Homo sapiens: one gene and its partner. The gene in region 2 interacts genetically with the main gene of each other region. Each region holds a gene or a part of one and is shown on either strand. Other genes may lie near its edges.

Region 1 (3,797 bases), on a different chromosome or scaffold from region 2:
ATATGAAGACACACACACACACACACACACACGCACACACTGCAAACCCAAATTTTTATTAGAGTTACATGACATACAATTACTACAGTTATCTTGTCATGGACCAATAACAAACAGTTTACAGAACCACACTTGGGGTAGCAATGCTCTATAGCAACCAAACCTTAAAGAATGATCCTGATCAAATCAGAATACCTGATATACTAAAAAGTTAGAAACTTACTTCTTATCAAAAAAGGTTGAATTCTCCTTCCTCTTGGTGAATCCATTGGGTAGAAGTTTTAAGTTAATACCTTGCCTCCGGGCACGATTTTTCATAAAGTACATCTAACAACAAAAACCAAACAGACAAATTAATTTTTAAATTCCTTAAATTTAAAAAGTGAGTAAAACAATGTTCAATAATAGTTAAGATTTACTGAGAACCTAAGTGTTACAACAGCTCTAAGCAGTAATCTCATGTAATCTTCACCATGATACTATGAGAATAGGTACTATCATCTCCATTTTAGCAATAAAAATTAGTGAGATCCCAACATCATACAGCTATCCCAGAGAGATAGAACCTGTATTCAAACCCTGGTCTGTCTAATTCCAGAGCTTGTGTTTCTAACCATATGTTCTGTGAGCCAAAGAAGAATTTAATGGAGATTAAACAAACAAAAACACAGGTCATTTGGCAATCACGGGGGCTACCTACACAATTCTTGATTTCTTTTACCGATGGTTTTACCAGTTAGCTGTATATATATATCACTGATTTTATTACTAGACAGCTCACTCAAGGGAAGAGCCAAGGCATTGCCTAGTACAAGGCCTAGCTTAAAGTAACCACTGTTGTGGGAAGCACAAAATGGGATATGAGAACATTCTGGCTCTGACATGTGTTATTACATTGACCACCTGGGTTGATTAAGCTAAACTGGGCAATTCCAGAGTTATGAAGGAAGTAATACCAGATTTTTATTAAGTCAAGGAAGAAGAAAGATCACTCAAATAAGAGGCAAAATATAAACGCAAGTTTTTTGTTAAGTGAATAGGGATCTAGAATTTGCAATGTAAACAGTCAGAATCAAGTCCATAAGCCAAGGAAAGGATGGGTCAGCTATCATTGGCTAAGTAGGAAACTGTTTTAAGAAATTACATGTAATTTTATAATTTAGAGGACTTTAGTTTCAGTAATGGTAGTGATAATTATAATAATTCTAATAGCAGTGACCAACCCTCCTAATATACCTTCAGGATAAGGGTGAACCAGAAACAATCTCTACTTTTAGAGCAAGCTAGGAAACTTGTATGGTTACACTGAAACAGAGGAAAAAAGAAAAAAAATCCATTAGCAGTTATGGCTATGGACCATCCCTTGCTTAGATTTGCAATTATTTTGCCTTGAAAACAGCACTGAATAGCCATACTCTAGAAAAAAAGTGGGAGGACTTAATCAGATAACAAGTTTCAGTAAAAAACCACAATAATTCAGAGAGCATAGTATTGGTGCAGGATATACCAGTAGGCCAACAGAATGGAAAAGACAAGGCCACAAAATGACCCAAGCATATAGGGATGCTGATATATGACAAAGGTGGTCCTACAGAGCAATAGGGAAAGGATGAACTTTCCAATAAATGGTGCTGGGAAAAGTGGATTATCTATATGAAAAATTAAATGGGAACTCCTCTGTATATGATACCAAAAATCAATTCCAGTTAAAGACATAAGTGTAAAACACAACAGTATAAAGCTTTTAGGCAATAACTATAAAAGAATAACTTCCTAACTTCAAGGTAGAGATGGATTTCTTTATAAACATATAAACCTACTAACTATAAAGGAAACAAATGATAAATTTGACTACATTAAAACTAAGAACATCCATTCACCACAAGACACTATAAAATGAAAAGACAAGACAAAGACTAGAAGAAGGTATTTATAACATACAACCAACTTGCACTAGCATCCAAGAAATACCAAGAATTCTCACAAACCAGTAAGAAAAATAAAGCTGACCAATGAAAAGATGAGCAAAAGACTTGAACAGGCACTGCATAAAAGAGGAAATCCAAATGGCCAATAAAGTATTTGAAAGGTGGTTCAATCTCATCAGGAATTAAAGAACTGCACATTTAAAACCACAATAAAATTACAAAGCCAACAGATTGACAAAAATTTTTAAAGTCTTACCAAACTAAGTATTGGCGAGAATATGACAATAGGTACATTCATACACTATTGGTGAGAGTGTAAACTAGTACAATCACTTTGGAAAATGTTTTGGTAACATCTAGGCAAATTGAAGATATGCATACCACACAACAAAGCAATTCTATTCCCAGGTATAAACCCTAGAAACACATGTTCACACACATACTATAATTCATAGACAAAAGTAGTGGCATTGTTTCTAAACTGTTTTTTATTCTTACAGAAAATCCAAAATCCATTAAAAAAATGCGTAAACAAATTGTGGTACAGTCCTAAGATAGAAAAAAATATAAAGAAATGAGAAAAGATCAGGGAAGGGCATAAAAGGGTGGCATGGAACTTCTGGGAAGCCAGTAATGTTCTAATTCTAGATTGGGGTGGTAGTTAAATGAATATTCATTTTATAATTATTCATTATACTGTGTATTTCCATTTTGTGATGTTTAGAAAATATACTTGCTATATTTCACAATTTAAAAAAAAATTGTAAAGTAATTTATCTTTAAGTAGAATTTTAATTATGCCTAATTAAGTTTGAGGAAAAATAAGAGTTGCTATATGAATAATTTTCTTTCAGATATGTGTAATGTAATTATGTCTGTACCAATAATACCAATAAAATAAGGTGTTTAAAAGGTATTAAAATTCTGCAACTCCAATACTAAAATGAACACAATTCCAGGATACGATTTAATCACACCATAAACAAATTTCTACAACACCAGTTGCCAAATATTCCAAATATGTAAGCTTTAATTTTGCATAGTATTTAAGGAATTAAAAAAGGAATGCAAGAGTATGAAAATTAAGTGTATTAGAATAGCAAGTCTTGTTAGCTCTTCCTTCAAAATCGCAATCTAATCCCTTCCCAATAATTCAAACAGTACACCCAAGCCACTATTATCTCACAAGGATCATGGGAAGAGCTGCATAATTGGTCTCCCTGCTTCCAATCTTCCATTCTTGCCCCGCTAAAGTTCACAAAGTGCAAGAGTGGTTTTTCAAAAGGCAAATTTATGTTCAAAACCCTTCCATGGTTTCCATTTGCACTTAGAATTAGAAACCCTCACCAGTTTCTTTTCTTTTTTCTTTTGAGACAGAGTCTCACTCTGTTGCCCAGGCTGGAGTGTAGTGGCGCAATCATGGCTCACTGCAGCCTTGACCTTCCTGGGCTCTGGTGATCCTCCCACCTCAGCTTCTCAAGTTGCTGGGAGTACAGGGGCACGCCACCACGCCTGGCTAATTTTTGTATTGTTTTATAGAGACGGGTTTTCACCATGTTGCCCAGGCTGGTCTTGAACTCCTGAGCTCAAGGAATGCTCTGGCCTCAGCCTCCCAAAGTGTTTGGATTACAGGCATGAGCCACTGCACCCAACTCCTCACCAGTTTCTCTAACTTCATTTTCAATACTCTCCTCCTCACTCACTATGCTTCAGTTACCTTGCAAATCTTTTAATTCCTCAAACCAGACATCCTTGTTTCTGACTCAGGTCTTTCCTTTTACTTTTGTCCCTACCTGGGATAATCTGCCTCCAAATGTTCACATGACAGCCTCTTTCTCAGCACTCAGATCACTGCTTACACATCATCTC
Region 2 (4,095 bases):
ACATTACTTAAAGACCACTGAACCCTCTGGTATTGAATTTTCATTGCAGTAAAAATCAGGATAATGAAGTAAATGGCTTCAGCAATTTATTTCAATTAATGTAAATTAGATGCCAAATTACCATGTCTTTTGCCTTCCCTGTTTATTTTTTATTGTATTCTAATTTCATCTTATCCTCTCGTCATCTCTATTTTAAAAATGCACTAGGTTTTCATTGCTACTTTACTTTGTTATATACCTTTGACTATGACATTTCCCAAGAGAACATTTTTTTCCCACTATTTCAGATTTCAAGATGGAGGAAAATGGGGGCTCCTGCGTTCGCCCTGCATAGAGTGACATAAGTAGATATCACGGGATTCTTGACCCCTAGCCAGTGGCTCATCTTGTTTGCTAGGCTTTCTTTGATTATTTTTTCTTACTGACTTTATCCCTTGATTTAAATCCCTCTATAAATATTAAAGGGAATAAACGAAATAAATAAATGAAATCCAGGGATGTTAGAAGATTTTCTTTAGTTTTTCACTTTCTTTCCACTCATGATAATTGAGCATAGACAAACATGCAGTTCAGCCGAGCGTGGTGGCTTACACCTGTAATCCTAGCATTTTGGGAGGCTGAGGTGGGAGGGTCACTTGAGGTCAGGAGTTTGAGACCATCCTGGCCAACATGGCAAAACCCCATCTTTACTAAAAATTGGTCGGGCGTGGTGACACATGCCTGTAATCTAATCCCAGCTACTCAGGAGCCTAAGGCATGAGAATCGCTTGAACCTGGGAGGTGGAGGTTGCAGTGAGCAGATAATGGGCCACTGTACTCCAGCCTGGGTGACAGAGCAAGACTCTGTCAAAAAAACAAACAAAACATGCAGTTCATCTTTCCCTCAGTAGATATCGAAAGAGTGGGATAAAAGGAAAAATATATATGTGTGTGTGTATATGTATACATATACACACACACATATACACATTATATATACACATTATATATACACGTTATATATAATTTTGTATGTATATAAAATAATGTGTATATATGTTTGTGTGTGTATATATATATATACACACCAAATATATATATATATATACACACACATACACCAAAGACTATAAGTCATTAAGATATCTTTGCATAAATCACTATTAAAACATGGTGGGGGCCGGGCACGGTGGCTCACGCCTGTAATCCTAGCACTTTGGGAGGCCGAGACGGGCGGATCACGAGGTCAGGAGATCGAGACCATCTTGGCTAACACGGTGAAACCCCGTTTCTACTAAAAATACAAAAAATTAGCCGGGCGTGTTGGCGGGCGCCTGTAGTCCCAGCTACTTGGGAGGCTGAGGCAGGAGAATGGCATGAACCTGGGAGGCGGAGCTTGCAGTGAGCCGAGATCGCGCCACTGCACTCCAACCTGGGAGACACAGCGAGACTCCGTCTCAAAACAAAACAAAACAAAACAAAAAAACATGGCAGGGTTTTGTTGTTGTTTTTTGTCTTTTTTTTTGAGACAGGGTCTCGCTGTGTCTCTCAGGCTGGAGTGCAGTGGCGCGATCTCGGCTCACTGCAACCTCTGCCTCCCAGGTTCAAGCGATCCTCCTGTCTCAGCCTCCCTAGTAGCTGGGATTACAGGTGTGCATCACCATGCCCAGCTAATTTTTGTATGTTTAGTAGAGTCCGGGTTTCACCGTGTTGGCCAGGCTGGTCTCCATCTCGTGACCTCAGGTGATCCACCCGCCTCGGCTTCCCAAAGTGTTGGGATTACAGGTGTGAGACTCCAGGCCTGACCAAACATTGTGGCTAGAGTAGTATTTACATCTTCTGCATTTAGCAGTGGGAATTTGTGACTGTCCAGGAAACAAAACTTCAATAGAAACTGGTACCCCTCTCCAAAACAGCATTTTGCCTACTCATCATTTTGTAAAGGCTAAATAGGCAACTGTGTAACCTGCGGTTAATAGAGTATTAAGTTAAATTCTTTTGAGCTAATGAAGTCATGTTCTTCATGTTTGTTGTTATCAATGGCTATAACCCAGCTGATTCTACATCTATATACCCATTGTTTGTTGTTTAAAAAAGAAAGAGTTGTTTCATCTGATTTTTTTTGAGCCCAGACTTGGGCATTTATTATCTTCTAAGCTTGAAACTGTTTCACCTTTAGGGTTTGGCTAAGCCAAGTCCATTTTTTTTTTTTTAGCAAGCATATTAAAATATTTTATACAATATTTTGGATTTGGATGGAGAATAAGCAAGATCTTTAATTTTCTTTAGATTTGACTTCTAGTGCCTTTTTAAAAACGTTTATTTTAGGTTCAGGGGTACATCAGGCTTGTTACAGAGGTAAGTTGCATGTTGCAGGGGTTCGGTGTACAGATTATTTCGTCATTCAGGTAGTAAGCATAGTACCTGATAGGTAGTTTTTTGATCCTCACCCTCCTCCCACCCTCTACCCTCAAGTAGGCCCCAGTGTCTGTTGTTCCTTTCTTTATATAAAGCATATCTAGGACTGCATTTTTATTCATTAATATATTTATATACAAAATACTTTATAATTTCTTACATTTTATACTCCTTTGGATCTGTAACATTATTATCATTGTGCAAAAAATATTCTCACATTATATAAGCTGTATTTTATGGTTACAGAGCTCCATTTTATTGTTAATGATTTCTTTTGATTTGGCTGTTAATTTCTTTTGATATCTGAACAGTGTATGGGTTTCGACAGACCATGATGAAATTGAGAATGTGGCCAAACAATTTGGTGCACAAGTTCATCGAAGAAGTTCTGAAGTTTCAAAAGACAGCTCTACCTCACTAGATGCCATCATAGAATTTCTTAATTATCATAATGGTATGAATTTGATTAATAGTTTATTCAAACCTTTATGTACTTTTCTACTTCCTTTATTATCTTATAAGACTTGTTTTAACATTTGAATTCCAAACCTTAATATTACTTGCTTGCAAGGAACTTTTTTTTTAAATATCCTTTTCATTTCTCTTGTCTTTTTAAGAGGTTGACATTGTAGGAAATATTCAAGCTACTTCTCCATGTTTACATCCTACTGATCTTCAAAAAGTTGCAGAAATGATTCGAGAAGAAGGATATGATTCTGTTTTCTCTGTTGTGAGACGCCATCAGTTTCGATGGAGTGAAATTCAGAAAGGAGGTAATCTCTTTTCAGTCTTTATTTTAGCTGATTTTATTGAGAATCAATTTTTTTGTATATAAATATCCTTTAGGCATGAGGAGAGTAAAAGGGGAGCTGTAAAAGAGAGTATTTGACTCATTACTTTAGTAGGTAATGACATTTACAATCAGCTGTAAATCTGTTATCGAGCCAACACAGCTAGACCAAATTAATTCTTTGCTTTACTCTTTACAAAGGGACATTCTAATCCTCTTATTTCTGTTTGCCTTTTGAGGCAGATATGCTGTTTTTCTAGATCAAATACTTTTATGTTTGTTCTAGACATGTTTGATGAACTCCATACAAGTCATATAGAGATAGAAAGCATCCACCAAAGTGTTCTGAAGGATTTCAAGAATGACATTTTGAAGTTCTTCCCCAAATTCCTAACTCCATATATAAGAAGGGTTCCCTAGGGTTTACTAGGCATTTTGCCTGCCATGTCCAGTGTGCTATAAATCTTATCCAGAGAATTATTATAAACACTGTGTTTTTCCATTCAGTAATGTACATTTTAGTTGTTTCGTAGGGATTCCATTTTCTGTTGAAATTTTCCATTTTTTTATCCATTTTAAAAAAAGGTCATTTCCTCTAATTTAACATATTTTTGATAGCTATTTGAAAGTCCTTGATTGCAAATTTCAACATCTAGTCACTTACAGTTCTGTAATCTGCTTCTTTCTTGATTGTGAGTCACCTATTTCTGCCTCTTCATTTGGCTCATGTTTAATTGTATATCTGGCATAGACACTTGAGTACATATTTTCCTCCAGAGAGGGTACACCTTTTCTTCTATCAGGAAGATAGGATAAGGGGCTGATCACTTTGATTCAATTAGGAGTTGGGCTGGGTTGAAACTTTAATTTCATCTCACCTCTTAGTATAGGTGTCTTATTAGGAGATA

The links.
Region 1: changes in CMAS (region 2) and ZNHIT6 together harm fitness more than expected from each alone (negative genetic interaction), as found in Homo sapiens cells (one large-scale study listed by BioGRID).

The regions. Positions count from the first base shown.
Region 1 is NC_000001.11:85,701,934-85,705,730, forward strand, and holds part of ZNHIT6 (box C/D snoRNA protein 1), read right to left. Parts: intron 328-3,797; coding exon 224-327; intron 1-223. UniProt on the Homo sapiens protein: Required for box C/D snoRNAs accumulation involved in snoRNA processing, snoRNA transport to the nucleolus and ribosome biogenesis.
Region 2 is NC_000012.12:22,052,441-22,056,535, forward strand, and holds part of CMAS (N-acylneuraminate cytidylyltransferase), read left to right. Parts: intron 1-2,708; coding exon 2,709-2,851; intron 2,852-3,014; coding exon 3,015-3,170; intron 3,171-4,095. UniProt on the Homo sapiens protein: Catalyzes the activation of N-acetylneuraminic acid (NeuNAc) to cytidine 5'-monophosphate N-acetylneuraminic acid (CMP-NeuNAc), a substrate required for the addition of sialic acid.